2 linked regions of the Homo sapiens genome follow. The protein of the gene in region 1 interacts with the protein of each later gene in a biochemical or structural test. Each region holds a gene or a part of one and is shown on either strand. Other genes may lie near its edges.

Region 1 (16,833 bases):
AGTTCTGCCAACTCTCTCACTGTAATCTAAGGCCAAATTAATTCCTCTCTGTCCTGTGTTCTTTCTTATTCTCTTTAAATCTTACCAGGGACACATTTATCTGTCTGTGCAGGCCCAACTTATTTTCAGTCTCAAGAACTATGCTATTCTTCCTCCTACTCCCAATCCCAACACATGCAGGAAAAGCATGCTACAGTGGGCTTAGCAGAATTTAGGGGAAAGCGTAACATTTGATTGAAGAGCTCTGCTGTTTTTTTTCTCTTACTAGACTTCTCCATATCACATTCTAATCTAGGCTTAGGGCATTTCAAAATATATCTGATTAAAATTAATATTGTATGACTAATAAAATAGAAAAATTCCAATTAAATTAGGTATCATTAACATGGAGTAACTTGCTTCAATATTACCTTAAAGCAGTAACTGGGTGAAATGAAATGGCATAAAGACTGCATCTCCAAATATCTCTACCCATCACAGTCCCAAGATATTCAATTATTAATTTTTTTCTCCAGGGATTCAAATATAAATGTACAGAAGTATAACATTATTATCTCAGTAAACCTCTCCATGGGGATCATGTTCTTTGGGAATACTACAAATGAGAAAAAAAAAAGTGAAGTATTGATTTACATATTGAAAAAAATCCTGAATGAAATACATAAAAAAGAAGGCAACATTTCAACCATGAAGCAGACTTGTATTAGATTGGCATAGTAACTTTCAGATGGGAAGGGAGAGTAGTTTACCTATCTTTGGAATTTGAAGCTTTGATATTAGACAGTGTGGTACAGGGGATAGAGTTGAGAAACCTGAATTTAAGCCCTGTTTTGTTATCAACTAGCCAAGTGACTCAGATTAAACATTTAACTCCTTTGGATGTCAAGTCTCTTATTTTTAAAATGAAGATGTTGGATTTGATAATCACCAAGGTTCCTATCCAGATCTAAAATTTCATGTACGGTAAACATTCATTTTAAGGGGTATGGTTAACCAGTGCCTACCACAATATTTGAAAGCATTGTACTAGGTGCTAGGCAAGTAAAAAGATAACTATAACAAGTTTCCTGATATCAGAGGTTTATATGGTGTGGATTATTTAAATGACCAGGTAATATTTGCAGAGCATTATGTAGTCATTTTATTATACTTTGTAAAACGTGGGGGCAGTGAGGGTCAGCCGACTAGGAATGAGCTTTGCCTCTCAATCCTTAGGCTATAGCTGACTCTTTATAAAGATCTGGGTAAATTACCTCTAAGTCTGTTTTCTACTTGAAAATAATCATACTGACTCAACTGAAAGCAATGTTGAGAAATAACAGAGGTTGTACATTCTATAAATTTTTATGGACACCATGCATATGCCAGGCCAGTGTTGGGAGCTGGGGCAAAGCAGCCGACCCATCCTTCATCTAGCTTAACTCTTATACACATTATTATAAAGTATGCTGCAAATAAATTAATAGAGCAAATGACTAGCTATAATTAATTGTGGGCTTATTGTAATTTAGAGGTGTCACGAAGGAAGCCCTTTTCTGTGCAAAATAACATGTGTCTCAGTCTTTGAAGTACCATGGTAAACGGTAAAAAAAAAAATCATAAATATTACACACACAAAAGATTTGAAACTTGTATTAAATGACATATAATTTATTATTTCCTAGATGTAGATTAAGCTGAAACATAAATAGAATAAAGAATGCAGGAGCAGCTTCCCTGCTCAGAGTAAGGGCGGATATTCTTACTGCTAGATCTGCCCAACAAGCAATCCCCTATCTCAGAGTCCAGAGGTACCTACCCATCACTGTGGGGCCCCGCTGAGGTACTGTCATGATAAAGGTGATCAATAAGGATGTTCTATGAGAGATTCTTGTCTTGCGAAAGAACCTGAAGCAAATAATAAATAACTTCAGGTACAGTTCTGAGATTCCATAAAGTGATTCATAAATGTTTGAATGATAAAAATATTATATAAATAGTATTATAAGGATGTAATTTATTAAAGAGAAATTAGCGATTAAGATGGAGGGAGCATTTTACCATGGGAGTGCTGTGGGACACAGAAACTGGTTTGTCTGAGCCCCTTCCAAATAGCATAACATTTGTGTCCTGATTTAAAATCTAAATTTCAGAGCCTGGAAACCCAAAAGCCTGGGCTGTAGAAATCTAAAACCAAAAAGACCGTGCGTTCTGTTACCTGTGATTTGTGGTGTCACCTACTCTTTGAGGCTCCCAGATGGCCCAGGGCCTTAGGATATGGGGATGCCTTGTAGGTGTGTTGTTGTTGGAGTTGGTGGCTGGGATGAGGGTGGAGGCAGGGTAGGGTGGGGGTGGGTTGGGGTGGGGGGAATCCTCCGTTAATATCTCGAAATATTGTTCTGTTACCATAATGCGGTGTGATAAGTTAGCTTCAAGTATTGAAAAATCAGGGCAGGACTCATGGAAATGGTGCGAATTCTTGACTTAGGGTCAGAAGAATTCACCAAAATTAACGTCTCCCTCTGCCAAATAACAGCCAGTTTCAATTTCTGGACGGCCTCTCCGCGGGAGTGACAGGTTTTCTTAGATGCCGCCGGGGGTCTTTCACGGGCTGGTGGTCTGCCCCCTGGACTCGTCCATGTGTTAGGCTCAGTCCGCAGCTCAGAGCGCGGCCCTGTATTTCTGTCTGATGTCTGGGGCATACAGATGTGTGTGACGGACAATGCTCGTGGCATTCGAAGCCTCTTTAACAGACATTAGTGACTAGAGGAAAGAAGTGTGCGAACTCTGCGAAACAAGTATGCGGACTCTGGAAAAGAAGTACATTTCGAAAGTGGGGAGAGGATGGATCTTCGTAGGAGAAATGGAAATTTGCTCCCCACCAGAAGGTTTGCTGGAAATTAAGACGCGGCAATTCTTAATCCAGTTTCCTGCGGTAGGAAGCAGCTGACAAGAGAAGTCCCAGTCCGAGTTCGGCGCGAACTGGACAAGTGTCGTGGGACAAGTGGCGGGAGACCCGGCCGCGTCGCGCCGGGCGCTAGGGACGGACGCATTTCCCTACTTCCAGCAGCTGGTACGAGCCGCCCCCAACTGCGCTGCGCTGCTCTATTCTTTGGGAAACACTTCGCGTGCTTTGTTTCAGACGCCGACCCATCTTTCTTGGTGGGTCTCCAGCTCCACCAATCCCGCCCGCCACTGGGCGGGGTTTCAGGGTCAAGGTGGACCAATTTCCCAGCTTCGCCCCTACACGCGCTCTCGGACCCCTGGGGGTGACTGACAGCAGCCGGGCCCAACCCGCTGCTCCGGAGCATGGCCTCCGCCAGGGGCGTTACGGAGACAAGGCCCCAGGACCAATCGTATTGGCCAGTGGGGGGCGGGGCCTCGTTGCCAGCTCCAGACCGGCGCTATGGGCACTCCTTTTGTCAAATGAGAGACGCAGCAGGGCGGCCCCTGAGCCGCGGTTTAGCCAATGGAGAAGGCGAGATGGGCGGGCTGGGAGTGCCCGGCGGCGGGTCCTCAGCTTCGAGCCGAGGTGCAGTGAGCTGGTGGGGGGACCGCGAGGCGAGCGCGGGAGCCTGGGCGGCGAGCCGGGTGTGAGCTGCCTGAAAATGCACTCGGATGCCGCCGCTGTCAGTGAGTAGCAGAGAGCCAGCCAGCGGGCCGGGGCCGGGCGGCTGCCAAACTCGCCACTCGGCTCCCGCAGTCCCCGCCCCACGCCTCGGGTCCCGAAACGCGCCGGGAGCCCCTGCCTGGGAACCACCCCTTCCCCTCCCGGGGCCGGGGCGGGCGGTGACGCTGCGGGCGGCGTGGGGCGGGGGCGGGCGTGGGGGGAAGGGACCGGCCTGCGGGGAGGGCGGAGGTGAGGGGGGTGGGGACTGGCTCTCTTTCAGTGTTGGGGGAAGGGAGGGCTGGACGTGCGATGAAGGGCCGAGATCGGAGTGTCCGGGGTGCATGGAGGTGGAGGCAGCGTTGGGCTGTAGCGGGCAGGGCCGGGGATGTGGGGGGGTGGCACCGGCGGGGAGAGGGAGGGAGCGAGCGAGCGAGCGGGGCACAAGGGTGAGGATTTCCAAAGGGCTGAGTGGTGCGGGCGGCTCCGTGAGAAAGGCGGGTGAGTGCGAGGGGGGCGCGGGGGCGGGGACAATGGGAAGAAGGGCTGGTTGGCGGGGGGGTGGGGGGGGGGCGGCGAACAATGGGGTGGGGGAATGGGGGCAGCGGCCGAGCGGGGCAGGAGGGCGGGCGACTGGACGAGGGCTGATGTAACGGGAAAGCGAGGTGGTGGGAGGGACTGGGGTGTAATGGTAGTTGGGGAGTCCTGCGGGGCGGGAGGGGCGTTGGAAGGGCGGTGGGTAACGGAGAGTGGTGGGAGTGGAAGATGTTGGGGTAAAGAGATGGGGCAGGTGTGGAAGGGTAGGGCGATTGGGAGGAAGAGGAGAAAAAGGTGGGTAGGATTTGGGGTGGCAGAGTGGGGGCAGGGGTGGAGAATATGAAATGGGGGTGAGGAGCTAGTCGGGGAGGAAGGGGAGGTGGGGCGGAGTTGGGCAGGAGGACTGTCACGTCCAGATTCGGTCCGGAGCCGGGCTAAGGGGGTGTCAGACTGTGCTTAGGGGAGGTACTTCCTCTCCCTGTCGAGGCAGGGTCCCTTGAAGGGGGGAGTCCAAGCTTCGGGGTGCGGAGAGAGGAGGGGGCGGGGCTGAGGTGGAGGAGACGGGGTAAGTGCCCTAAGGTTGGAACTGGCCGTGGTTCCCCCCGGACGGCGGGAAGCGAGGTCAGCGCTGGCGCGGGCTCCGGCAGCGGGACTAGGAGGCGGGGCAGGGGTGCGGGCTGCGGGGTTTCAGCAGCGGGAGCCGGAGGGGTCGGGCCCTGATGGCCGGGTCGGGGGCTTGGCGCCGGGGAGGTGTCGGGGTCCCTGGCAGTCCGTGGGTTTGATAGTCTGTGACGCAGTTGTCTAATTTCTGGCTATCAGGTGTGGGGGTTGGTGCCATGGAACCCGCTTCCTTAGAGGGATGGCCGGGCCCTAGGCCGCGCCCCACGCCCGGGGGGCGCGACTTCTCCCAGGCGTGCTGGGAGGGCGCTTGAGGGGTTTCCTTTAGGGTTTGTCTCCAGTCAACGGGTATGAAGGGGAAAGGCGGTCCCGCCGAATTCTGGGACTTGTAGTCGCGGCCGCGCCCGGCCGCGGTTGGGTTGGGTGCACGTGGGTAACTGTGGAAACGGGTCCCGGCATGCAGCGCGCCCTTGGAGCCTTCCTGCTCGGCCAACTCGTGCTTTATTCCCCGGCCAGCTCCTGCGCGCTCTCGGGAGGCGGTTGAGTTCCCAGGGACGGAGCGACTCCCCAGCCCTTCTCCCTTGGGAGAGGGAGAGCCCACGCCAGGCGCAGCCCTCTTCACGCTTAGGTTCTTGGTCCCCAAGTGAATTTCCCCCTGCATTTTGTGGCCTTACTTGTGGAATAAATGCTTGGTCTTGTACCATCATGCGCACGGGTTGTGGGAAAACATTTAAGAAGCAACACAATGTAAAGCAGCCTTTAGAATGGTGTATTTAATTTTGGCATCCAGTGTGTGTAAGCACTGGGTTCCAGCATTCCCTTGCATAAATATGAGAACACAGTGGAGGTACACGTAACCCTTGTAACGATAATATAAACTATGTGTTGGTATTTCTTGGGGTGTTTGAAAAAATAACTGTCTTGAAATGAGTGATGGAGGTGGGTTAGTGGAATTTAGGGTGGAAATGTGAAGGTGAGCAAAGGTAATATGTGACGTCTTCAATTTTCGAAGAAGCTTGGAAAGCAAATGAGAATAGAAGAAAACTGTAAAAAGTGGAGAACCATAAGACTTTTTTTGTTTGCTTGTTTTATTATTAGCTGCAGGCTGCAATTCCTTCTCTCCTTAATACTAGAAACCTTCCTCTCCATAAGTAGACTCCCTAAACGTCACATCCTTCACCAGTTCCCTTTACTGTTTACAGGGAAGGGACTCCAGAATCTGTAATGTAGAAGGCTAAGATTAATGCAGAGATGATAGATTTTTGTATGTAATATATAAGGTATTATGAAACTACTTGCAACATAGTCATTAGAAGAATATTGTAATTTTTCTGATGATAAAAATATTACCAAGAAGTCCTAAGATTTGTAAACCTTTTGGTGTGGTTACAAACATACTGAACTTGGATACTTGATTGTTTGATGGTTCTTTTCATGATGAGTGAAAAATTGGGCAATGTGTGTGGTGTTCTTGTGGAGATCATTTATATCTATCTGTCATATTTTACTTAATCGTGTGGTGAAATATCCAGGAAACTCTTGGTAATATAAAAATATGTACAAAAATGTGCACTTAACTCTGGAATTTTTTCTTGCAGAGGGTAAAGTGATGAGGTTGAAAAACATGCAAGAGCTATAATTGTCTTCAAAATGGTGTTTTTAAAGAAAATATGAAGCTAGTCATAGCTTTCTCTTTTTCTTTTGTTCTATTATATCCCAAAGGGCAGGTGCTTTTTATACACATATAGCCCACCTCCCTCCATTCCCCAAAGCCCTAGGCTCCTACACACTTTCTGCTCTGGTTTTTAGGTTCCTTTTTGATTTTTGGCGCTTGGGGAGGTCCTTTATTTTCTTGTGAACGTAGCTGTGCATTTAAACAGATGTTTCTTACACGTTATCCAGAATTTTTGACTGTTTTATATTAAGAAGGATTTTTAGGTAATCTTGTCTGTAACATTGCCAGAAAAGAAGGCCTGCCTCATTTTCTCTTAGTGGACTTCACTCTCTTCTTCCTCTGTTGTTAACTCTGTGTACCCCTACTGGCACTTAATCATGTTTTTTCAAACTTTATCATTGTCTCCTTTTCTGTTTTTATGTTAAGTTGCTCCCAGCAGCTCTTCTTGGCTTATTACCTTCTTCCTGGCTACGTTTACATTATTATCTCAATCATCATCTGCTAATTATAACTAATAATTAATAGCTAATAATCCTGCTAACTTAGCAGTATAAAAATCAACCTGTGAGAAACTGACCTCATGATGATCTCTTGTATCAGTTAGGATGCCTTTGCCAATACAATGCTCAAATTAATGGCTTAAATAATAGGGCTTATTATTGTTCGGTAGCAAGAAACCTAGAAGTAGTTGGTTCTAAAGCTGGTGCAGTGGCTTAATGATGTCATTAAGGATCTAGGTTCTGCATCTTTTTCTTCTTCTATTAGTGTTTTAGCTTTTATTCCTCAGGCTCATTTGCCTCATGTTTGCAGTATGGTTGCCGTAGCACCAGACATCATGCCTGGATTGGAAAGCAGGGAAGGAAGGTGCATATTTCCTTATAACTCCCTGTTAACAGAGAAGTCTTTTGCAGAAACTCACTTTGGAGAGTTCCATTTCAGTGTCATTGGATTGAACTGATCTCATGCCACTGCTAGCTGTGAGGAAGCCTGACACAGTGAATGTCTGGCATTTACCAGCATCTCTTGTAAGATATGGCCTTTCGTAGGGTGGAAGAAGGGTGAGAAGAATGCGCTGGGTTGGCAACTTGCAGGTTATATCCCTGAACCAGCTACTTTGGCCAGCTGTCTCTGGCTTGGTCTCAACCTTTACGTTGATTTATTTTCTGCCTTATTCTAAAAGAATTAGGGGTGACTTGCTAAATATAGATAAAACCCTGTCAAGAGAAGAAAAATTTATATATAGACTTGTAAGGTACACAGAAACACTTGCCATATGTTAGAAATATTTGGCACTGAGCTTTTTAATAGTCAAAGAAGAGAACAAAACTAATAAATTTTATTCATTTGGTAAATGAAGCTGCAGTAATTTTAATAACCCACACTGAAATCCTGGACATTTCTTATCCTCTTCTTCCCTGGTCAGTGGCAAGGAGAGATTGCATCTCTTCCCATGCCCAGCCTCTCTTTCCCATACCTATTGCCATGGCCTTATGTCTGAGACAGCCTTTCTTACAGTGTTATAATAACCAGCAATACATTTTTCTTTCTTTTTTGTTTTTTTTTTTTTAGAGGTTGGGTCTTGTTATGTTGCCTAGGCTGGACTCGAACTCTGGGCTTCAGGGGTCCTTCCACCTCAGTCTCTGAGTAGCTGAAGTTATAGATGCACGCCACTGCACCCGGCTCCAGCTGCCCTCAGTGCTGCTGTTTTAGAATTTTTCTTTACTGTGCTCCCTCTCTAGCAGACTCTCCTTTCATGGAATCTCTGAAGCAGTGCTTCCTTCTGTTACTCAGTTTTATGTTACATAACAATAGCTGCTTGTTTACTTTTATTTCCCCTCCCCAATTAGATTATTACCTTTTTGAGATCTGGGACCATGTCTTACCCAGTATCCACTTTAGCATCTAGCATGATGCCTTGCATAGCTACCCAAATATGTATTGAATTGAACTTAAATGATCAACTATTGAATAACTTGTGCATTATCTAGAAAAATTAATTCTTCCTGTTCCTGTTGTCTTTCATTATCTTTAGATTTTTCTTCAAGGAACACAAGCTTTCACCTACTCATTCTTTGCATTTTTTAGACAAAGTCAGTTGTATGCAAACTAATTTAATATTTTTCAAACATGCAGATATCAGTTTTAGAGAATGTGGCGTGGAGAAATTCTCAAGGAAAGAGTAAAATGCTGGTGATGTGCTGAGGGAACAGAAGGAGTGTTTGTGAATGTGCACACGTCCGTTTCTGGTCTCTCGTGTCAGCGTCCTACCTGCACAAGGTTAAGGCAGCATTAACAGGTCTGATGTTAAGGGGCCTAGAGTGTTTGTCCTTTTCCCTTCTTTTTGTTTTATATCCATATTCTGGTCCTAAGGATTTATTTCTTAAGTTAACAATATAGTGAGATCACTGAAAGTCTTTCTTCAGATTTACAGAGTAAAATTTTCTTTGATGAATCTGACATAAATGCTGGTAAATTTTTATAGTTGGTCAACTCGAATTGGTATTAATTCTTCTCATAGCTTGCTTTTTTTCTTTTGAAATTTACATTAGGAGAAGTACCTCTTGAGAAGTATTCTAAGCAGAACATGTATTTTAAAATGTGTTTTAAGAAGGAAAACATTGAAATGCATTCTAAATAGAATTAGGTATTTTAACAATCATTGTGTGACAGTTTTAGATGTAGCAAAGTATCTGCTACTTCAGGTTTGAATTGCTTTTAATCAGAAAATGCTGTTAATGAGTTATGTTCAATCTAGGAAGATAGGCTTGTCATTTGTAACTAATGTACTGAAAAAAACACTAGATATGAAAAAGACCCCTGCCCTCTTCAAATAGCATTACCTGTGGTATGATTTATTTTAGTTCTGCCTTCGAGGATTTTTTTTTCCTTGTGAAATTTTTTGCTGGCCTGTATCAGTAGATTTGCAGAGACGGGGAGTAATCCATTTGTGCTTCTCCCCCTGCCCCACGACCACAATTGTTGGCTTTTAACATATGTCATCTTAGGCCTCCTCCATATTAGTTTATGATTAGTGTCTGTAATGGACACTGTCAGTCCATTGACTCTTGGTCTGATTGGAGAATTCTTACCCTGGCAGGCAGATCTTCTCAGACACACTCGCCTGAGACTGTGAACCTGAGGCTGGAGGCAAGGAAAGAAGAGTAGCCCATGTGGCCATTTTCTGGGGGGATGCACAGTGGTGGCTGCTGTGCTGCTTCTAGAGGCAAGGTCTAGTTGTTGCTGCAATGATGATGCAGTCTGCTGTGTCCCCTTAGGCATTGTTATGGCCAGGGGGAGATTCTGTGAACTGTCTAATAGCCGCCTCCCCTTTTTTTAAATCACTTTTCTGTTTAAATTACCTAGAATTAGTTTCTGATGCTCTCAACTAAGAATTCTGATACTTCAGCATCCAGACTTGTCACTGTCGCTGGTCAGATACGTGGTAGAAGCCCTTGTGAAGAGCAGTGATGTATCTTTTTCATCCTGGCTGCCTGTACATTCTGGTCAGAGGTGACCCAGAGGACTGGAGGAGGACACAGTCGATATCAGCTGTGGGTCGTGGGAGCTGTGTTTGCTGGTGGTCAGGCAGGACTCCCGAACCACACACTAGCCCAGCCCACTGGGTCTCATCATGTGCCACTCTTTACTGCTGCTTTTTCCTAATTCTTTGTCCCCCAAAAGTTGGGATGCCTAGGAGCTAATACATAACTCCTTGTGCATTTTTTTTTTGGCTCTGATGTGGGAATATTAGCTACAGAAATATGTGTGTGTGTGCGTGCGTGTGTGTGTGTGCGTGTTTTAGTGGAATGTTTATTTTGTTTAGCCAAAAATTACATCTGATGTACCAAATACCTTTTTAGTCAACATTATTTAGGTATAATTTCACGTATTATAAAATTATACTCATTTTAAGTGTTGTTGGGTGAATTTACTAAAGATATAGAACATTTCATTACCCCAAAAGTTCCCTTGTGTCCCCTTGTAGTCAGTGCTTCTCCTCCTGCCCCACTACCACAATTGTTGGCTTTTAACATATGTTACCTTAGGCCTCCTCCATATTAGCTGATGATTTGTCACTTTGCTGTTCCTGAGGATATTACAGTATAATAAAGGCATGATAAATCTCTCGTTTTTACTGAACTATGAAATCCAAAGAAAAACTATCAGTGCTGTATAAATTATCAGTCTGATAAATAATACTTTGCCGCACAGAAGTGTCTTGAGTTAGATGACTTGTTCTGGTGAGCGGCTTTCCAGTGGATGGCTTTTCTGGCTTCTCTGTGGCCTGTAGACATGCAGGGCTCGGGTTTTCTCCCTGGATGTGATGATGTCTTTTAATTGTTATCTGGGTCAGGTTGGGAGGCAAGAAAGCCAAAATGGCTGAATTCAAATCCTTGCTCTGTCATCTCCTAGCCAAGGGACTGGAGTAGAGTTACCCAGCTGCTCTGTGTGCGCTTCAGAGCCCTCATGCCTAAAAATTGCCTGTTGAAGGCTGTTCAGTCACCAAGTGTTTATTGGGTATCTACTATGTACCAGGCCCTGCTCTTCATATTTCATGAAGTTTTCCTTTTAGTGTAGGGGAGGGGGCAGATAGTAACAAGTAAATTGTGTAATACGTCAGATGGTGATAGGTTCTGTAGAGAAAAACAGCAGGGAAGGGGTGCATGCAGGCACCCCTGTGTGCGGGCGTGGGGTGGGGTGGAGGGTGTTGTAATTTTAAATAGTGGAGCCAGGAAAGGCTTCACTAAGGAGGTTTTAAGCTAAGCCCTGATGGAGCTGAGGGGCCATTCCAGGCAGAGAGAATACAAATGCAGAAGCTCAGAGTGGGGAGCAGGCCTATATTTGAGGAACAGCAGAGGCTGGGGTGCTTAGAGTTGTGGGGGAGGGCAGAGGGAAGAAAGTAGGAGGCAAAAATCATAAGTGGTCCAAAGGATTAAATGAGATGAAACACGTAAAGTGTTTTTGATGCTTACAATTACTGTGTGATGACAGTCTCCTAGGTAGCCTTTAAAAAATCACTCTTGAGAAGAAAAGTTATAAGAAAGAACAGAACCAAATGAGGCATTCCCTCACTCAGCCATTCAGCAAACATTCAAGGGGATTTTTGCTGCCAGGTGCTGCTGTCACAGGCAGGACTGTGTGGGGGAGACCGGGGCTTCAGGAGCTTCCTTCAGTGAGTTCATTGTGGAGACAGAAGGAATGGATGCATGGGACGATGATGCCTGCTAGGTTAGATGGATGCCCCGGGGGCTTTGAGAACATGTGGGGAATGGTTAGCAGTTGTCATGTGAGTTTTAGCTTTTGAAGTTGGATTATGTGAAGAACAGGATGTGTATGCATGTGCAGGTGGCATATGGGGTCAGGTGGGAGCTTTCCAAGCCCAGCGACAACATGGCATGGTGGGGACAGAGAACTGTGGCAGGAGAGTGGGTGTTTGGTAGGCTAGAGTGGAGGGGAAGGTGAGGTGCAGGGCTAGGCAGGAGCTGGTGGCAGGGGTGGGGTGGGGTCGGTGGGAAGAACTCAAAAGAGGCACCAGGGAGAGTGTATGAGTGGAAAGGAACTGAGAGAAGGAAAGAGAAGTCCCAGGTGGGGCACAGGGAGGGAGGAGGAGCAAAGGGGAATGGGGAGGGACTAACACGAATTCAGTGATGATCTTGGATTTGCTTCAACTGCTTTGCCTGCATTAACTCATTTAATCCTCACAGCAACCCTCAATAAGTTAGGGACTGTTATTATCTCTGTTTCACAGATGAGGACGCTGAGGTGTAGAAAGGTTAACTCCCCTTCTCAAGGTCACACAGCTTATAAGTGGTGAATTGAGATTCTAACTCAAGCATTCTGACTCCATGGTCTTGGTAACCCTCTACTGCCACTGAAATCATTCTTAACATTTTGTTTGTGCTTTTCATTGAACCCTGATTGGAACACTGCATGTATATTGGAATTCTTTTTTTTTCTTTTGTCACTGGCCTATGAATGATGCTGACAGAGCCAGCTGATGGATTATCTCTTGGTTCTTTTCTTCTTGGAATGAGTCCCAGCAGGATCAGGATCTGGGATTTCTGAGTCTCTTCTTTCCCATTCTTCTTCATCCCCTCTCATTTTTGCTGGTTTGCTTACAATGAGAGTAGACATTTAAAAACTGATTTTAAGTGGGAAACTGAAGAATTGTGGCAAAGTATTTTCATACTCTTAACTAATGAAATAGTCATTTTTAGTCTTCTTAGATTTTATTTAAATAGACTTTGTTATTTTTAAATATAGGAGATCTCAACGACATTGCAGCAAAACTAGAAAACAACTACTAACATCATTTTTACATAACATTTTTGAAATTATTTTTATTTTTTTTCCTGTAGGTTAGGGTAAGTTTAATGTCTTGTCCTACATATGCAATTCCCAAAATTAAGCCACAGATCACTTCTTAATTATTAATTAAACAGGAAACGGGATAGTTGTACATTTAAGTCCAATAGCTAGTGAATTAGTAGTTTTAAACACCATCACCTTGTGATCTCTTCTGCCCTGTCTTTTTGTAGTTCTAGGTTCAGTCTGTCTCAGTGTCTTCTACGTTCTAAATAATAATAGGGATGAAAACAATTAACGTTGATTGGCACATAATATGGACCAGCACTGTGCTAAGTGCTTGACATGCACCATCTCATTTAATAATCCCCACAGTAGCTTCGCAAAGAGGTTCTGTTATTTCGGCTTTATGGATGAGGACACGGGCACAGTGAAGTTTGGAAGCATGTACAGGGTCACTCAGTTGGGACTCAGTTGGAGCTCTGACTCCAACCCAGGGCTTTATGTTATCAGAGCTGATTGACATTCTTTAACCAAAATCTGGGCTCATTTAACATTAGTGAGATGGAAAGATTTTTACTGTGAACTACCCAGTGATTCTGTGTGCTTCAGTGGGTAGTACAGATCATTTGTGCTCACCTTCAGTGGGTAGGTGGGGTGAGGAGAATGAAGCTAGGGCCCTTTGTACCATGTCACATTGGGAGTGCAGCCAGACGGGTGTCCTGAAGTGACTGAGTCCCTTGGGATAGCACCAGCAGGCACAGGCAGTGTGGTGGGCGATGGATGGATGCTGCCTCCCTTGGGCGGATGGTTTCTTCTCCCAGCCCCTTTTTTGAGTCCTGCAAGAGGAAGAAAAAGCCAGCAGCAATATGCTTGGATAGCTTTAACTTTGGATCTGTGTTCAGTGAAAATGCTGAGTCACTTTGAATGACCTGTTCCCTTATCAATTTTCTCCTTTGGCTTTTGTGCCTTGTAAATAGCAAATATTTATTGATGAGGAGAATGAAGTTAGTTAACACCTTCCTCACCTGCTACTTTCAATTCTTTTGGTTTTTACCCTGCTTTTCAGCTCTGCAATCTTTTTCCTGGACCTTGGCCTTTTCATCGTGTGCTGATAGGGTATGGTGAATGAGTTAGATTCCTGTCTAGCAGTGCTGAGGTTGTTCCAGGAGTGGATTGGCTACTGGCACGCCAGGGATTGAGTTGAGAGTCAGGGATAGAATCTACTTCTCTGGTTGCATGTTAGAATCACCTGGGCTGCTTGAGAAACACGTGGTGCCCCACACCCATTTTTATTTAATTGATCTGGATTGGGGCCCTGGTATTTGGTGTTTTTCAGTCTTCTTAGGTGATTCCACTGTGTAGCCAATGGTTTCATTTAAATATTAATAGCTTAATTAGGAAGCTGGGTTTATTTTGGGCTGTGGAGATGGGGCTCAAAAGATGCAGCAGCTCCCCCATGGGCACTGCACTGGGCAGATCGTGCAGACCCTTCCTGCTCGCCTATGACATAATAGCCAATTCTTGGTAGTGCTTCCCCTGTGCCACGCACTGTTTGAAGCACAGTGCAGCATTAACTCATTTAATCCACACGATATCCTTATGAGGCAGGCACTGTGATTATCCATTTCGTAGAAAAAGAAATTCCTACTTGTAGCCATGAAGGACATGTAGTATGAAACTGACCCATAAACCTAGGTTTTGGTTTTTCCTAGATTTACAGTATAGAAAACATTTCAGATCTTTGTGTTTTAGTAATTTAGCCTCAAATGTGAATATATTTGTTTTTACAAATGAAACTGAGACCTGTGCCATGTCATGTAGCTAGTGACTATCAGTTAGCATACAGAGTTGTAAATTGGTATTGTAAATCATTTAAAACACTACTTTTTTATGGTTTTGACATAGATTTTACTTTATGGTACATTTTATATTTCAGGTTATTTGAGATGTACCTCATTTTTAAGGGAATCTTTTTTACTTAAAATTGTATTTTGTACTTTTTAAAAACATATGTACTATGATCTTTGAGTGCATATTAGATCTTCACTGACTTGTGATCTGACCTGCCTCTTCACATTCTGGCTACTGTAACCCTCCAGGATACTAAGCAAAACTAATAGCAGCATTTGAAGCATGCTCAAGTCCTGCCATTGTAAAACCCAAACTCCTTCAAACCCACATGCATTTCTAGTCTCCCCTTTAATAGCCAACTTATTGAACAAGTTGTCTTTGCCTGACATAGTCTGTATTTCTTCATCACTCATACAATCCTCAGCCCACTTTGTTCTGGTCTCAGTTCTGTCATTGCAGTCTTTGAGGTCATGGAGTAACCTCCATGTTGCTAAATTCAGTAACTATTTTTAAAGCATTTATTCCCCTATTTATTGGTACCTGCCTTGTGCTAGGTTTGTGCTGTTGTAGGTACAGGTCAAGTGTCCTTTATCTGAAAATCTGAAACCCAAAATGCACCAAAATCTGAAACTTTTTGAGTGCTGACATGACACTTAGAGGAAATGTTCATTGTAGCATTTCAGATTTTTGGATTAGGAATGTTCAGCTGGTGAGTATAATACAAACAACAAAACCTGAAGAAATCTGAAATCTGAAATGCTCTGGTCCCAAGCATTTCTGATAAGGGATACTCCAAAAGATATTGGGATAGAGTAGTGAATAAAGCAAAAGGAAGTCCCTATCCTCATGGAACTTGGGCTCTAGGAAGAGTGACAAAGACATAAATAAATATTTAATATAATGTCAGGATCATGAAAGACCTCCTGTTGTGTGACTCTGCTGATATAAAATGTCTAGAATAGGCAAATCTATAGAGACAGAAAGTAGATTAGTGGTTGCCTAGAGCTGAAGAGGGGTGAAGGGAGAAATGGGGAATGACTGCTAATAAAAAATGTTTTATTATTAGATTGTGGTGATGTTTGCACAACTCTGAATATACTGAAACCATTGAATTTTACACTATAATGAGTGAATTCCATGCTATGTGAATTATATTTCAAAGCTTTTAATATCAGGAAGTGGTAAGTGCTATGAAAAAAATCTAAATCCACTGGGAGATGGAGGTACTGTTTTGCATAAAGAAGTTAGATGAGACATCTCTGATGAGGTGACATTTAAATAGATATTTCAGGAAAGATAGCTGTTGGGCCTGTGAACGTCAAGGGTCATGGAGGCTGAGGGGCACAGTAAATGCAAAGGCCTTGAGGTAGGAATTCACTTGAATATTCACGAATTGTGTGGCTAGAATGGAGTAGGCAAGGATAATGGAATGGGATGACTTAGGTCAGATCACGTAGAGCCTTGTGAGGACTAGAATTTTTTTTCTTTTATGCTGCAATAGCAAATACAACATCTCAGTGATTCAAGTAAAAGGTTGTAATGCATCCTTTGTGGGTTGGAATGGGTCTCTGCTCCACATCGTTGACATTCTCATCCCTAGTCTATCTGAAACCCATGGAAAAGAGGGCATGTGTTTCTAGAAGGAAGGAAACAAGGCAAATCTAAAGAGTGGCTCCCAACCACAGTGCAGCCTTGGCTTTAACAATTTTTGTTTTCTTTTCCCATATCACGTGGTACAATTGACTTTTCAGGAGGCTGAGCCATGTGACCCATGGCTTGAAACACCCTTAAGCATTCCCTGATGAATCCCAGTTAGAGAGGCAGATCCCTATACCTCAGTCGTGTTCTTGTTCTGTTCCAGAGACATTTAGATGAGTGCCAAGGTTAGATGGTAACCTTTAATTTTGTCCAATTTTGTTTTGCTTTTTTGGCAATAACATGGTCACTATTTTGCCCTTTCCTTCTGCCGCCTTTACAGGTTTATTTCATCATTTTCATCGTCACTTGAAAAGCATTTGTTAAGAGCATAATACTGTTTAAAACTTTTATATCTGAGAGAATTGTTCAGCTGTAGTTTAATAATAAAACACTTTGATGATGCTTTAGTGACCAGAAGAGCGAATTGTGCTTAAAAATAGAAAGTTAACACTGGTGTTAAATCTTTTCTGTACCATTATTTCCCTGGGGGAAAAATGGTGAATTGTTTTAGATTCAGCCAGTTTTAAAATTTTTTTCTTTAATATTAAATTACTTTAAG
Region 2 (16,833 bases), on another chromosome or scaffold:
GTCAACAACAAGAACCTACATACAATGTATTGCTGCTATTAGTAGGCAAGCTGGTCATAGAATAGGTAAGAAATCTTTAAAAGTTTTACAGTTTTCTTTAATTAAAAAAATTAATGCATGTTTTTAAAGAACCATTATGCTTTTCTTAGGTGAATACCTTGAGAAGATAATTCCTTTGGTGGTAAAATTTTGCAATGTAGATGATGATGAATTAAGAGAGTACTGTATTCAAGCCTTTGAATCATTTGTAAGAAGGTAAGTTTTTAAGATCTCTATTTTTTACAAAAAGTTTTTCCTTAAGAGTAGAATCATAAGGTCTACATTAGGTGTGTGAGGAGAAGCGGCCTTTTGGATTTCAGATATAACAGACAATACAGTATTTGAAACTAATGTCATCTTGCTATTATAAAATGTGGTCATCACATTTATTTTGAAAATTTTCCTTGTCATTGTTAGGACTTTATTTAAAGAATTTTGGAAAGGTATTTATAATTATTTTGGGTTTACTTTAGAAGGGAAGAAATGCCAGTGTAATAATGTAGTCTGTACTGAAAGCCCAGCAGGATAAATTATTCGTCAGAAATAAGTAGTGAATTGCCTTTTCAACAATTTCTTAGGTCACATCCATTTTGCTAGGTCAGTGATTCTCAATTTGGAAACTGATTCTAATATATTTTTTAAAAGCTTAGTAAAAGTTGTGTATTTGTGTACTAGAAGGCAATACAAGATAAGTAACATTATTTTTCCTCTTGACTAATGCAGTAGCATGGTGTCTTGAGACCTTACTGGTTGTTTTCTGCATTTATCCCTTGACACTCCTGGTTTTGAGAAGTGGCTTTTAATCATACCATATTCTGAAAATCAGAAATTGTTAGATTCATTTTTGTTCCTTTAGTTGAGAAACACAAAGTATTCTTTTATTTGCTGGCCCTGTGGGCATTTATATGTTCTGTCCTCTCATTACATCGGTAGAAGACCAAGCCTAGGTGAATATGCACTGGCATTTCCACAAATAATCCTAGTTACTGAAGAGCACATTCATCTGGGTTTGGTTTTCTAATAACATGTTGATTATATACCGATTTCTGTCTATACTGCCATACATTAACCATAACATAGTTAAAATCGGGATTAGGGGAGTTCATCTTAAAATTGATTAAATAAGTACAATTTGAAAGGTAAACCTTTTAAAATAGTAAGTCCATGGGAGAGAAAGAGCAAGAATCATTGGTGCTAGATAGTCTGGGAACTACTGTCCTATGTTATTGCTGGTAATAAAGCAAAATGTGGCAGGTAATGAATCAAGGAGTAAAATGCAGCTCTTCAAGGCAGCTTTTGTTTTTGTCTTTAGATGTCCTAAGGAAGTATATCCTCATGTTTCTACCATTATAAATATTTGTCTTAAATATCTTACCTATGATCCAAATTATAATTACGATGATGAAGATGAAGATGAAAATGCAATGGATGCTGATGGTGGTGATGATGATGATCAAGGTATTGCAAATTAAATAGAATCTTTTGAGTTTTTGTGAAAGACACTTATAGATGGAGATGATTCTTAGTCCAAATTGTACTGTTTGTTTTATTTAGTTATAATAGTGAAAAGGGAAATGATCTCAATATTTGACAACAGCAAATTAAGTTAGAGGGCATCCATGTATTGAACTGTTATGCAACACATTAAAAAATCATGTCTAAAAATCATTCATTAATGCTGTTAATAAGGTGAGTGAAAAGTATGTAGCAAAAATTGCTCACCATAGCCCAATTTTATTTCTTTAAGTATACAGAAAAAAATCTGTATATTTACAACTAGTACTATTACCACTTGTTTTCTCTTGGCTAGGAACTATGTATGATTTTTGGTTTTAAGTACTATTCAAATTTTCTACAAAGCATTTTTGTAAGGAGATAAACCAAGGTTTTAGAAAGAATTGAATCTGTAGATATACATATTTAGGGCAGCTTGGCTTGAAAGAATATTAGTTTGTTTATTCATAGTTCATGAAAAATTCTAAATACTGTTCGAGGCCCCATTTAACATTCATTAATAGCTTACAACATTTCTGAGGCTCCTAAGATTGATGTAATCACACGATGATTTATGATATTTACTCTGGAAAGTAGTAGCAGCACTTCAAGGACATAGGGGTTGCTCATGTCAGTTGTTTCTGTTTGTATTGGAAGAATCATAATAACAAATATTTAAGTTGGTAAATTACTAGGTAAACAGGTTGGTGGATTTTTTGTTATTTTTGAGAATACTTTTTAGTTTGATTCTTTGAATGAATTTACATAACAGCTTTCCTGTCAAGTCAGTAATTTCACCCATCTTTAAAAAACAAGTACCAAAAGAGTTTCTTAACACCATATACTCCTCTAGCAGCTGCTGCCTAGTTTCTCTCCTCCACAACAGAGCTCCTTAAAAGAATGCAGTTCCATTTTCTTTTTTCCATTCTCTCTTGAATCCACTCCTCCAGTGATGGATGAGATTGCAAATGTTTGACTCTGCCTATCGTATTACTCAGTCTCGGCAACATTTCTTTATTTAGCTTCTGGGATACCATTCTAGCCTGGATGTAGTCCTATCGTTGTGATTACTCCAGTCTTCGATGCTGTTTCTTCTTCTTCACCCTGACCACTGTACTTAGAGTATCCCAAGGCTCAGTCCTTGAACTTAACCTGTTATACTGTTGATTTTTTTGTTGATCTCATCTAGTCTCCTGGCTTTAATATCAATATGCTGGCAACCCACATCCTATCTTTAATCCAGATCTCACTTGTGAATCCAGATTCATATGCAACTGCTTAATTAATATTGCTGCTTGGATATCTAAAATATCTTTTCCCTGCCCCTTCCCCATCTCCCACCTAACCTGTTCTTCTTTAGCCTTTTCCATCTCAGAATGGTACCTCTATTCTTCTTAGTTGATCAGGCCAAAAACCTTGCAGTCATACCTGATTCCTTTTTCACACATCCCTCAGCTAGTCTTCCACCTCAGAACTATCTTTCATTTTATTGTTTTTATTTTGTTTATCACACTTAGTAACTTTCTGACATACTGTAATTGATGGTCTCCTACCTATTAGAATATAAGTTTCATGAAGGCTAGATGTTTTAATCTCTTGATTGACTGCTTTATTCCAGTGCCTAGGACAGTACTTGACACACAGGCAATCAATAAATGGGTTGTATTAATGAAGGGAAACTTTAGCTTATATTTTAATATGAATATCTTTTGAAGAAAGCAGTAGCAATGTATATTCCAGGTTTTGAATTTTGTTTTTTTGTGTGCTGTATAACAAACTAGGTACTTCACCTGCTTTATCACTTAGTATGAATTATACCCATTAAATGACTTTTCTACCATGGTGTTTTTGTGATTTATAAAATCAACGTAATTTTAGTGAATAAGGACATTTGTTAATTTTTTATAATCTTGTTTTTAATAAAGCTTATATTTCTGGGAGGCAATTGCCATAGTGTATTGACATGGAAAAAATTTTATGTGCTCTTAACTTGATAGTGTATTTTGGCAGTATCTTTTAACTTTATTTGAATAGATATTGGTAAATAAGCAAACGTCTTGCATTTAGCAGTATTTGGTTGTATTTTCCTGTAATGTGCTAAGGTGAATTTTAAGCTTTTGAGTTGGAAAATTTTATTATTTTGTTGTATACTGTAGAATCTTCTAAGGCCTAGCTGGCTACATTTGACTGTCAAACTAAGCTAATTGGAATAAAAGCCAGTAAAAAGTTACTACTCCGCTCTATTATTTCAAGGCTATGTATAGTCTTATCTAAGAATAAAGAAATTATTGTGAGATAATTTTAGACTATCATGATAACTGCTAATATTTCTGCCACCTTTCTGACTTCATATTACCCAACTAATTAAACCTGATGGTGTTAGAAAGAAAGATTTTCTGGAGATTTCACACACATGTTATCCATCAAGTATAGATAAGTGAGATACAATTCTTAGTGCTTTTGCTTTGAATGTTTAAGGTTTAGCATTAGGGGAAAAAATGGTCCTCTGTTAAGTGTGCAGCATTTTCTTGGTATAATTAAGCAAAAATGGTTTTGTTAAAGTACATTAAGACAAAATTGTGAAAGGTTTAGAATATACATATTTGTTCCTCACAGCTTATCAACAAGTTGAGTGAAAAGCCTTGTAGTCACAAAGCTGATGTCAACCTTCTTTTTATTCCCAGCAAATTAGTTCTACAGTGTTTTGGGATTGGTAACCATTCTTTTTATCACCTACTCTATTACCACAAATCCATTTCATGGTTTGTCTTATAAAGTCCCTGATTGTTTGCTTGATTTTTCCTATGCTGTTAAGTAAGTTCTTTGAATTTTGTTTCAAAGGCTGGGAAATTTATGACTATAAATATTTATATTCTAAAGAAGTTGAATGTGTTAATTGATGATTTTAAAGGGTTAAAATAAGCAGCAGTTCATTACAAAGTAAATGAGAAAATGTTTAACTAATTAAAAATACCATTATGTTTGTTTTTTAAGTTTAATTTATGTGCAGATTTACAGAAATAACAAGCTCTTTGTTCAAGTTCTAGTTCTGTTGAAACCTACCTGTTGCTGTATATGTTACCGGAAAGTTAGATTAACTGATTTGGTTAAGAATATCAATTGATTTTCTGTTTTAAATGATATACTTCTCTTGTCATTAATAGCCTGTTTACATTAAAACTTACCCTTAGGGAGTGATGATGAATACAGTGATGATGATGACATGAGTTGGAAAGTGAGACGTGCAGCTGCGAAGTGCTTGGATGCTGTAGTTAGCACAAGGCATGAAATGCTTCCAGAATTCTACAAGACCGTCTCTCCTGCACTAATATCCAGATTTAAAGAGCGTGAAGAGAATGTAAAGGCAGATGTTTTTCACGCATACCTTTCTCTTTTGAAGCAAACTCGTCCTGTACAAAGTTGGCTATGTGACCCTGATGCAATGGAGCAGGGAGAAACACCTTTAACAATGCTTCAGAGTCAGGTGGGTTTTAAAGTAAAGTTTAGAAAATCATGATAGTAAATGCAATGCTTTTAAAATTGTCTTTATATGGAAAGGTGAGTTCCAGAATATCTATAGAGAAGCAGAAAGTTCTAGGATATGTTTATATAGTTAATGCATGTTCATATTATGTTAGTTGTAAACTATTCTAATTGAATTATTCTTGGCTTTACATGATAAACAATATTTAAATAATTTTAAGATTCAGTAAAGTAGTCTTTATCTTTGATGTTAATAGAGAAGTCTTAGAGCTGTGGAGTCATACTACTTGCGATCACATAACTGACTTCATTTCTAATTTAGGTGTGTGATCTTGGGCAAGTTATTTAGTCATTTTATTAAACCTCACTTTTCTTATTTGTAATAAGAACGTACTTAGAAATATCTACCTGTGGTTGTGAGAGCTGGGTGATCTGTGTAGAGCATTCAGTGTAGTGCCTACTACATATATGCTTGATATATGCCAGTACTTACTAATAAAATACACATTTTTTCACTTGAGGGCATTTGTTTTCTAAGATCCTAAACATTAGAGCTATTATATGCTCCCATTTATTGAATATTTATTACATACCAGGCATTCTCCTATCTTATATGTAATCTCTACAGCAGCCCTATGGGATGCACAAATAGTAGGTCAATTTTTATAGATTACAAAACAGATATTGCCAGGGATTAAACCAGTGGAGAGGACGGGACACACATACTGTATCTATCTTGTTTTTAAGTAGTACAAATAAATACATTTTTGTGGTGAACTTACTCATAAAGGTGAATGTTGAAGATTAATTGTAGAAGGAAATGAGATAAAGTGTATGGAGGACATATGCAAGTGAGTGAGTATATAGAAGTCAGGTATTGCTCAGTAGAGTTGCCAGGAATTCTGACAATGCTATGGAAAGTCAGACATTTTTTTTGTTTTGTCTAGTTCTTAGATCATTGTGTAATTAGGGTATGTGTCCATGTAGTTTGGTTGTTGGGATTTTTCTTGGCTTTTTGTTTTTACTCTGTACTTGCTTTGCTGTTGAGGTATTCTAGAAGCTCCGTTGATAGCTTTGCATCCGTAAGATTTGTTAGTAGAGACCCTGTTTGTTTTACTGACTAGCAAAACATTAGGAAGTTTAGAGCAGATGTCTTTTAATCATACCCCTGCTGCTTGTAGCTACATTTGAAGTGAGGTTGATTCCTTCTAACAGCAAATGGAAAGTAAGAAAAGGACCTGTTCGATGGTTGCTTTTCCATAATTTGTCTTGTTTCCTTTGATTTTTATCTGTGCTGTTGTCATTCAAAATACCATTTATAAATTAACCTCCTAAATTTTTTATTGAAAATATGATTTGATTAATTTCTTTCTTTCTCTTTTTTTTTTTTTTTTGAGATGGAGTCTTGCTCTGTTGCCAGGCTGGAGCGCAGTGGTGCTATCTCGGCTCACTGCAACCTCCGCCTCCTGGGTTCAAGCGATTCTCCTGTCTCAGCCTCCCGAGTAGCTGGGAGTACAGGCATGCACCACCACGCCCAGCTAATTTTTGTATTTTTAATAGAGACAGGGTTTCACCATGTTGGCCAGAATGGTCTCGATTTCTTGACCTCGTGATCTGCCTGCCTCAGCCTCCCAAAGTGCTGGGATTACAGGCGTGAGCCACTGTGCCCAGCCTATTAATTTCTTTTTAGTCATGTATGTTTCACAATTAAAAATTAAGTAGGGAAGACTATTTTGTTGCTCTCTGGAAAGCTAAATGATAGCTTTTCTGTAATTTCTTATCAGTATCAAGCAAATATAGTTACAAGAGAACATATATAATACATGCAACAAACTTGATCTTGTGTTAGCAATAGCAATAGATAGCTGAATTAGGAATTTAACAAAAAAAGATAAACTCTTCCCTTTATCCTCATTCTCCATAATTCATGTTAAGTGTACTGAGGAAATACCAACAGCTGAACCAGCTAATGACTATATGATAATTGCAGGTTCCCAACATTGTTAAAGCTCTTCACAAACAGATGAAAGAAAAAAGTGTGAAGACCCGACAGTGTTGTTTTAACATGTTAACTGAGCTGGTAAATGTATTACCTGGGGCCCTAACTCAACACATTCCTGTACTTGTACCAGGTATGAAAGAAACATAAATCTCTTTTGGGACTTATTGTAGCCTTTTTGTTAGGACTTAGATAAGCTTAAATAATTGTTTCCTTTTAAAGGAATATATGTGACAACTTAATATGCACATAGAGCTAACTTTTTAATCTAACAATCTTGAATACCTGAAGTTAGAAATTTGTAAGTAAAAGGTTAAAAGTCTCACCCTAAAATATTTGGCTGTAATATTTATTGTAGATGGTGAAAATTTCTACTTATAGAAATAATATAATGAAGTGGGAACATTAGCAGTACTATAGGGGTTGATTTTTAATTTTTCTTTCTTAAAAGTCTGCACAGCAATGATTGGATTTTTTGTTGGCTTTTTAGGAATCATTTTCTCACTGAATGATAAATCAAGCTCATCGAATTTGAAGATCGATGCTTTGTCATGTCTATACGTAATCCTCTGTAACCATTCTCCTCAAGTCTTCCATCCTCACGTTCAGGCTTTGGTTCCTCCAGTGGTGGCTTGTGTTGGAGACCCATTTTACAAAATTACATCTGAAGCACTTCTTGTTACTCAACAGCTTGTCAAAGTAATTCGTCCTTTAGATCAGCCTTCCTCGTTTGATGCAACTCCTTATATCAAAGATCTATTTACCTGTACCATTAAGAGATTAAAAGCAGCTGACATTGATCAGGAAGTCAAGGAAAGGGCTATTTCCTGTATGGGACAAATTATTTGCAACCTTGGAGACAATTTGGGTTCTGACTTGCCTAATACACTTCAGATTTTCTTGGAGAGACTAAAGAATGAAATTACCAGGTTAACTACAGTAAAGGCATTGACACTGATTGCTGGGTCACCTTTGAAGATAGATTTGAGGCCTGTTCTGGGAGAAGGGGTTCCTATCCTTGCTTCATTTCTTAGAAAAAACCAGAGAGCTTTGAAACTGGGTACTCTTTCTGCCCTTGATATTCTAATAAAAAACTATAGTGACAGCTTGACAGCTGCCATGATTGATGCAGTTCTAGATGAGCTCCCACCTCTTATCAGCGAAAGTGATATGCATGTTTCACAAATGGCCATCAGTTTTCTTACCACTTTGGCAAAAGTATATCCCTCCTCCCTTTCAAAGATAAGTGGATCCATTCTCAATGAACTTATTGGACTTGTGAGATCACCCTTATTGCAGGGGGGAGCTCTTAGTGCCATGCTAGACTTTTTCCAAGCTCTGGTTGTCACTGGAACAAATAATTTAGGATACATGGATTTGTTGCGCATGCTGACTGGTCCAGTTTACTCTCAGAGCACAGCTCTTACTCATAAGCAGTCTTATTATTCCATTGCCAAATGTGTAGCTGCCCTTACTCGAGCATGCCCTAAAGAGGGACCAGCTGTAGTAGGTCAGTTTATTCAAGATGTCAAGAACTCAAGGTCTACAGATTCCATTCGTCTCTTAGCTCTACTTTCTCTTGGAGAAGTTGGGCATCATATTGACTTAAGTGGACAGTTGGAACTAAAATCTGTAATACTAGAAGCTTTCTCATCTCCTAGTGAAGAAGTCAAATCAGCTGCATCCTATGCATTAGGCAGCATTAGTGTGGGCAACCTTCCTGAATATCTGCCGTTTGTCCTGCAAGAAATAACTAGTCAACCCAAAAGGCAGTATCTTTTACTTCATTCCTTGAAGGAAATTATTAGCTCTGCATCAGTGGTGGGCCTTAAACCATATGTTGAAAACATCTGGGCCTTATTACTAAAGCACTGTGAGTGTGCAGAGGAAGGAACCAGAAATGTTGTTGCTGAATGTCTAGGAAAACTCACTCTAATTGATCCAGAAACTCTCCTTCCACGGCTTAAGGGGTACTTGATATCAGGTAGGTATCTAGATTTTCTTACTTAAAAAGTTTTTTATTGATAGTTGGTTGCCTTAAAAGACACCTAATAAAGAAGTTAAGCCATGTCTATATTTTCTTAAACCTAAAAGCTAAGTATGTGATGAAGAAAAACTGTCTTTCGTAGTATGGAGTGATATTCAAATGACATTTTGTTGTTTTAAAGGATAGTGTGGTAATTAGATAATGGTTAAATCTGTTCTAATTCCTCATGATAACTACATTTTAATGTTACTATATTGTGTTAAAATGTGGAAAAGATGTATCTAATGAATTAACATAATCTGAAGAGCTTGTTGATACTAATTACAATAAGTATAATTGGTGACAGTACTTTTTTCAAATGGAAGATTCTGGAAGAGTTTTCAGATTTACCAGTGTCATCCCCATTAGAACAAGTAAAAGGTAGTAATATTAATAGCAGTAATAGCCATTCATTCTTAGACATTGCTTTCTGTTTTAGTAAAAAATTTGAAGATTTTTAAGCGGTTTTGGATTTAGCTAGTTCTATTTTGTGAGGGCGAGATCGTCCACTGCTGCTTCAAGTCCCTCCTTCCCAGAAGGAATTGTTTCTTTGAAATCTAATGGGATTATATTTTGTGCTCATAAGTAAGTTAATTTTGCTCCTTTGGATTCATGTGTGCAATAAGAAATACCCTTCTTGGCCAAGGAGAATTCTAAGGCATTGAAGACACTGGTGTTATTTGGAGTGGTTTAAAAATGATGTCCGTGAGTTTTAGTGGACTACATACCAATAGACTTGCAATTTATTTTTAACTAGGCTCATCATATGCCCGAAGCTCAGTGGTTACGGCTGTGAAATTTACAATTTCTGACCATCCACAACCTATTGATCCACTGTTAAAGAACTGCATAGGTAAGTGGAAACAAAGATAAACATACTGATTTTTGGACTTTAGAATTCTCAAGAAACTCTTGAACTTAGTAACTAGAAATATCGAGGAATTAAAATGCTTATAAAATAATTGTTTAAAAGAAAATTGATATGATCTTACAACTTTTAACAAATTGCATTTGCCTGTATTGTTTGTAATTATTCCTAGATGATTTTGCACATAAATGAAGTTATAATATACCAGCATGTCTTTAGAGTCAACTACATATTTGATAGCCATATTTTTGGGGTGACCTAAGATAGCTTTAGTGGATAAAGCAAAAAGATACTAGATTTATATGGCCAGTCTGAAGTTTCTCCCTAGATTTAAATGAGTCTTGCTTGAGCTATTAAGGCCTCAAATTTCAATTATTACTTCTAACACCCAAGGAGATCTATGGAGATTTCCATATTTAAGGTCAAAATAACCTAAGAATAAAAAATAAAGGGGGGGAGAGCTAATTCCCAGAAGAACTAAGAGGAGATAACCCAAGAAAAACTAGGGCTTCTCTATTTCTGTGAAGACAAGAATTAGCTTTTGGGATTATTTCTGATTTTATAACCTCCTTGCATTTTGTTTTTATCATTGGTTTTCCTAGAGTTTGATAATAGCCAAAAACACCTCAGAATTTAGTTTGTTGCTTTCTTGAGGACAGGATAATGGAGATAACCATCAGGGAGGATTGAGGGATTTGGCAAAGAAGCTTTGTAGCTTTGTGCCATTCTTCAGTGTGCCAGAAAGAAAAAAAATACAATATAAAATTTGAACTGCATAGAAAGGGATTGCCAATTCAGAATAAGGAAAGCACAGGCACAAATGGGTTCTATTGCTAGGGCCTAGAAATTATTTAAAGTCTATATGAGAAACAACTTATTGGCATTTCCCCCACACATTTTCTGCTTTGATATGTTTATTGAGGACATTGGTATTATGCAAAATAGGACAGAGGAAGAGGCCCATGCCATATCTCTAGAAATATCTTTCCATGTTGACAGCAGTCAACCAGTATGCATTGTTGATACAGTTACTCAGCCAGGTAGTTAGCATTCTAATTGAATTATGATCTAGTTAAGTATTCATGACTATTTGAACATCAGAACCACCTGGGAAACTTTTTAAAAATTGAAATTGCTAGTTCATGACACCATTTTGTCCATAATAGCAATATTTTAGATGCTTTACTGAAAGCGGATATATACTCTATTGTAATTACTCTTCTAATCTACCAGTTTAGTATGCAAATAAAGGGGAGGGGAGATTAGTTTGGTACATTTATATTGTTTTTGAAACCACGCTGTTTCTCAGACTTTTTTTTTTAAATCAGTGCTGGAACTTTCTTGGATATCAACATTGGGTTTCCCAATCTACAGTATCTGAAGTCTCTCTTTCCTCCCATATTTTCAAATTGCAGGTTTTTCAAGTTGGCATTCAAGTCTTTTATCTCTCCTACATTTCCCTGTGTATTCTAAAAGATTGCTGATGATAGAGTTGAGATCATATAATGATGAATAATAGCTACATGTGAATACTTAGTGTGTACTAGACATTGTCTTCAACAATATATGCGCCGTTTATTCTGCTCAGTATAGCTCTAAAAGGTTTATAATCCTCATTTTATTGACTGAGAAACTGAGGTTCTTGCCTAAAGTAACTTGCACAAAATCATACATTTAACAAGTAAAATGATTTGAACCACCAACCATGTGACTCCAAAGATCTTTGCATTATACTTTCTTGCCCACATTTGCAAGAGTAAGCAGACTTTTAAAATACCTAGATGGCTTCTCTGGCTTTTGTCCTATGTTAGCTTTCAATTTTCTCCTTTTATATTATTTTCCTGTGAATTCGTGTATTTCTTACTGAAGACAGAAATAAAGTAGGGCTTTTGGAGGCACGTTTCTCTTTCATTTGATTAATTGTATATCTGCTAATAGTACTCCATCTTTATTAAGCAGTGGGTCTGTCTTCACTTCATTTTTTTATTCTTATTTTGAACTTAGTTTAAAAATATTTTTGTTGCTGCTTTTAGTGAACTACAAGGAGAATCAAGCATGTGATTAGTCTTTTTAGCTCTGTCTCTGTCATATCTTATATCTATAGAAGTGATATTGAGGAACTTTATGGACTCTTCTTCCATACCCTCTGCATTATAAGTGCTGAGAGTGGATTATCAATTGAAAATATATTCACCTTCAGAAATGATAGTTGCGTTGCTGCTGAAAGAAACGTTATGGTTCACTTAGTGTTTCATCAGGTTCTTCCCTGACCGTCACTGAAGAAATAACAATGACACCAGCAAAAATAAATTATATCAACTTAGAGAAAATATAATGTATATTGTATTTTAAGTTTATCATGTCTGTCTGTTGCTTTTCTTGTAATATTTCAGGTGATTTCCTAAAAACTTTGGAAGACCCAGATTTGAATGTGAGAAGAGTAGCCTTGGTCACATTTAATTCAGCAGCACATAACAAGCCATCATTAATAAGGGATCTATTGGATACTGTTCTTCCACATCTTTACAATGAAACAAAAGTTAGAAAGGAGCTTATAAGAGAGGTAAGTTAGATCACACTGTTTATTTGAGCTTGTCTTTGACTTAAGTATTGTATATCCACACGTTCTTTTTTGCTTTAACAGGTAGAAATGGGTCCATTTAAACATACGGTTGATGATGGTCTGGATATTAGAAAGGCAGCATTTGAGTGTATGTACACACTTCTAGACAGTTGTCTTGATAGACTTGATATCTTTGAATTTCTAAATCATGTTGAAGATGGTTTGAAGGACCATTATGATATTAAGGTAAGATGTTTGTGCCTATTTATACAATGTTTTAGAAGAAGACTTTGCTAGAGCAACTTTCACCCTTGTAATTTACTCATGTGTCTGAGAAAAATCAGGTTGTCTGTGAAGATTTTGATAAGCATATTGTAAACTATAAAGTGCAAAAGTAATAGGCAGTGTAACACCAGTTGACGTGTAAGAAAGATCCAGAGCCCTTTTTATTGGAGGAGGAAGTGGCAGTGGATGCAAAATGCTGTGTGCCCACTTGCTTAGTGAATAGTCCCTAGATCCTTTCCCTCAAAAAAGTCCCGACAGATTTTGCTGTTTAAAGTATAAATCTGTAACTTTTTGGCCTGTCTTAACATTGGACCATAGTTGCTACCCATGGAGGGTTTTCTTAGCATTGTCTTGATTAAGTCTCCTGAGCTACCTTTGGGGCTAGTCTGAATTGTAACTGTATCATTTACCTGAATGAGGAATTTTTGTTTTTCAATATAATATACTGTGTTTAATATCAAGAATTTTGTTATAGGACATGGAACTTTTCAGATATACAAAACAATCTGTAGAAGCTACTTGAGAGAAATCATACTGCGTCTTATGTTTGGATAATGAATTTTGCATATAAGTGTTCTTTGTTTTCCTGTGTGTTCGTCTCCATTTAAAATGTGAACAGTAAAAGGGTGATTTGAAAAATGAAAAATATATGCATTGTGTCTTTTTCATCTACTCTTCCATTTAGGGCTTTTGGCCAAGCAGGACAAAAGTGGTAACTCAGCAGTAATTGAGCCATACTACCCGAACTCCTACTCTTAGGTTTCCATGTGTGGTAGTGACCTGAGCCTCTCAAAGTTCAATGAAGAGGGCCTCCCCACCAAGAAGTAAAAGGATGTGCTTGTTTAATTCTATGAGTTTATAGTCCAAGAGAAAAAGGTTTATGGGTTATCAGGTTTTACATGGATTAATCTGAATAACTGGTCAACTCTGTTATGATAGTGGAAACTTATTATGAAATTGTGTTCCAGTTCAGTAATTTTCTAGTTCTATGATTCTCAATTCTGGTGCACATGAGCTTTAAAAAATAAAAATAAAAAAAATAATGTGTGCCATATTCTGACAGGTTCAGTAAAACTCTCTGGGGATGGGGCTTGAAGAATGGGTATGTTTCTAAAGCTCTCTGGATGATTCTAATGTGCAACCAAGATTGAAAACCACTTTTCTAGTTCTTATATCTGTTTGAGACAAATCTGTCTGATTCTGATTGGCAGATTACATTAAAAGGAAGGTTTACTTTGCATGCTAGTTATTTTCCTTTAAAGGATTTGTCAGAATTTAGTATTTTGTTTTTAGAAAATGATGTCAAATCTAAATTCTGTCTTTTTTATTCCTAATAGATGCTGACATTTTTAATGTTGGTGAGACTGTCTACCCTTTGTCCAAGTGCAGTACTGCAGAGGTTGGACCGACTTGTTGAGCCATTACGTGCAACATGTACAACTAAGGTAAGAAATGATAAGTATCAACCTAGGTCAGACTTGGTGTATTGGGGATTCCTAGCCAATTCTTTTCTCTAGCTTTCCAAATATAACTATTCCAGTGCTCTGTGTAGCAGTTGGTTTAAAAAGTTAACCTATCGAATACTGATATTTTATAAAACTTAGCCCTGTTAACGGCTATTCTTAAAAGTTTTTGTTTATTGCTATATCAATATGTTAACATTTTGAAGTACTGATACATATTTGAAGTACTGATATGGGATAAAATGTGATCAGGCCACAAAAGAGGAAATTTTTAATTCTGGTTGGAAGGGGAGTCAGAAGGTTTCATATTAGGTTGACAACATTTGCAATGAACCTCGAAAAATCAAGATTTTTTTTTTTTTAGACCAAGAAGATGAAACGGGCTTTGAATAAAGGCCTGGAGATGTCATCATATGGTGTGTTTGAAAAAGTGAATAATAGAGTATAGCAAAGAATAGGGTAGCTAGAGGAGTACTTTCTTGATGGGGGCTAAAGTGTGAGACTTGCTAAGCAGATAGTTGAAACAAAGAGTGTCCTACTCTCTTTGTTACAATCATTTGGGTCTAGATTTTCTGTTTTTATAATGGGGCTTTGTGTAAAATATTCCCTTAAAAGAAAAGGAGACAGCTACTTTAAAAATAAGTTTAAAAACAGTTGTTCTTAGAATGTAATATGCCTTATGGACCTACGAGAGTAGCTTTTAGCAGGAAGATCTTATGTGCTTAAATTTTGTTCATGTAAGAGCTGTCTTTTATAGCATGTAATCTAAGTTTACTCCATCTTACAGGTAAAGGCAAACTCAGTAAAGCAGGAGTTTGAAAAACAAGATGAATTAAAGCGATCTGCCATGAGAGCAGTAGCAGCACTGCTAACCATTCCAGAAGCAGAGAAGAGTCCACTGATGAGTGAATTCCAGTCACAGATCAGTTCTAACCCTGAGCTGGCGGCTATCTTTGAAAGTATCCAGAAAGATTCATCATCTACTAACTTGGAATCAATGGACACTAGTTAGATGTTTGTTCACCATGGGGACCATTACATATGACCATACAATGCACTGAATTGACAGGTTAATCATAAGACATGGAAAGAGAAGTGTCTAAAAGCTTCAAAATGTTCCACTTTTTTTTCCTTCATGGAGACTGTTTGTTTGGCTTTCTTCCATTGTTGTTTTTGTAGCATTTATTTCAGAAATGTGTATTTCCATAATCCAGAGGTTGTAAAACCACTAGTGTTTTAGTGGTTACAGCAACATTTGAAATGGAAACTAAAAGTTAGGATTTTATGGAGTATGGAGATAGGGTCCAGTATCTATTTACCCTGTAATGTTTAGGATTAAAATGTTAAAATTTTGTGACCATGAATTTCTTTCTTTTATAAATTTTCTCATTTAAAAATCAAAAATCTTGCAAAACAAAAACCATGTTTCTTTTTCTTGTATAACTTTTTGTTTTCAGCAACATAAATTGATTTTTAGCTGGCAGACAAGAATATCCATATAAGATTTGTTAACCATTTCAGAGAGTTTGGCAATTTTTAAAAGATAATAAGGTATCATTTTTAAGTATGAAAATTAACAATATCCCTGTTGCGCACACTAATTTTGCATGAGTAAGTTTACAAATATGTATCGTCTGTAAAGCAGCATGTGCAGATTATTCATAATATAGAAGTTAAAATAAGTATTAGTGCAATTTTCAGATATTTATTTTTGCACAGAAAACACATTATCTGGAGAGAAAGAAAGGAGAATTTTTGAGACTTGGGTTTTCTTAATGCCAGTGTGAATTTGCAGATGTTTTCAGAAAATCAAGTCACAGTAACAATTTGCCACTTTTTTCTATTATAAATCTTCTTACTTAAATTTTGAATATTTAGTTTTTCTCAGTTACCCATTTGTGTGTGTGTGATTCCACTTAGAAATTCTTAAAACCAGATTTTTCTTTCATTCCGTTTGGATGTCTACATTCCTTATCAAAGGATATAAATACTGTGTATGCTTTTGAATTTTATTTTTAGGAAAATTCTGAAGCCAGCTATCACAGGTTTGTTAGCTAATAATAGTATTTTCTTTTAGTTGAGTTAGGTTTTTCCCCATCTCCTGTAGAGCGAATTTACATATTGTATTGGGTAAGTGTTCACTACTTTTCCTGATTAAGGGATCTGTGCTGGGGAACAAAGCTTTTGCAGTACCTTATATTGTAGTTAAAATTTTATTTAACATATCCTTCAGTGAGCTCATTTCACACTGTAGCCTCTTCCTTAAAATTTGTGGTGCTCCTGTAACAGTAAGAACTAATTCTGAAATAAAAGACATCTCCTAATGCTGTGCAAACATAGTTTACATGTATTGAAGGAGGCAGTTGTTAAATTGAGTGACCAATTTAAGCAATCAGATATTTGAAAACTGCACCCTTTAGTTTTGAAACTGTGAATTAGAAACACTTTTCCTGCTGTATTACTACCTGCTTTAACATCCAAATATACAGTGATTTTAAATGATAACATACTGTGGTTATTAGATTAACAGCTTGATTTTGAATGTTCAGATGATAATGCAGAAGACATCACTTCTAGTAAGGATTTTGACTAGTGCATTGATGTTGAAGTTGG

Evidence for each region.
Region 2: the proteins of DCUN1D4 (region 1) and CAND1 form a complex in vitro, tested with the Homo sapiens proteins (one study listed by BioGRID).

The regions. Positions count from the first base shown.
Region 1 is NC_000004.12:51,839,656-51,856,488, forward strand, and holds the start of DCUN1D4 (DCN1-like protein 4), read left to right. Parts: upstream 1-3,497; 5' UTR 3,498-3,587; coding exon 3,588-3,612; intron 3,613-3,916; exon of another isoform or gene 3,917-3,930; coding exon of another isoform or gene 3,931-4,087; intron 4,088-4,345; exon of another isoform or gene 4,346-4,417; intron 4,418-4,588; exon of another isoform or gene 4,589-4,688; intron 4,689-4,716; exon of another isoform or gene 4,717-4,744; intron 4,745-8,549; exon of another isoform or gene 8,550-8,712; intron 8,713-8,766; exon of another isoform or gene 8,767-16,833. UniProt on the Homo sapiens protein: Contributes to the neddylation of all cullins by transferring NEDD8 from N-terminally acetylated NEDD8-conjugating E2s enzyme to different cullin C-terminal domain-RBX complexes which are necessary for the activation of cullin-RING E3 ubiquitin ligases (CRLs).
Region 2 is NC_000012.12:67,297,599-67,314,431, forward strand, and holds part of CAND1 (cullin-associated NEDD8-dissociated protein 1), read left to right. Parts: coding exon 1-65; intron 66-149; coding exon 150-255; intron 256-1,351; coding exon 1,352-1,497; intron 1,498-4,724; coding exon 4,725-5,017; intron 5,018-7,006; coding exon 7,007-7,148; intron 7,149-7,505; coding exon 7,506-8,999; intron 9,000-9,798; coding exon 9,799-9,894; intron 9,895-12,302; coding exon 12,303-12,472; intron 12,473-12,553; coding exon 12,554-12,718; intron 12,719-14,094; coding exon 14,095-14,202; intron 14,203-15,007; coding exon 15,008-15,232; 3' UTR 15,233-16,833. UniProt on the Homo sapiens protein: Key assembly factor of SCF (SKP1-CUL1-F-box protein) E3 ubiquitin ligase complexes that promotes the exchange of the substrate-recognition F-box subunit in SCF complexes, thereby playing a key role in the cellular repertoire of SCF complexes.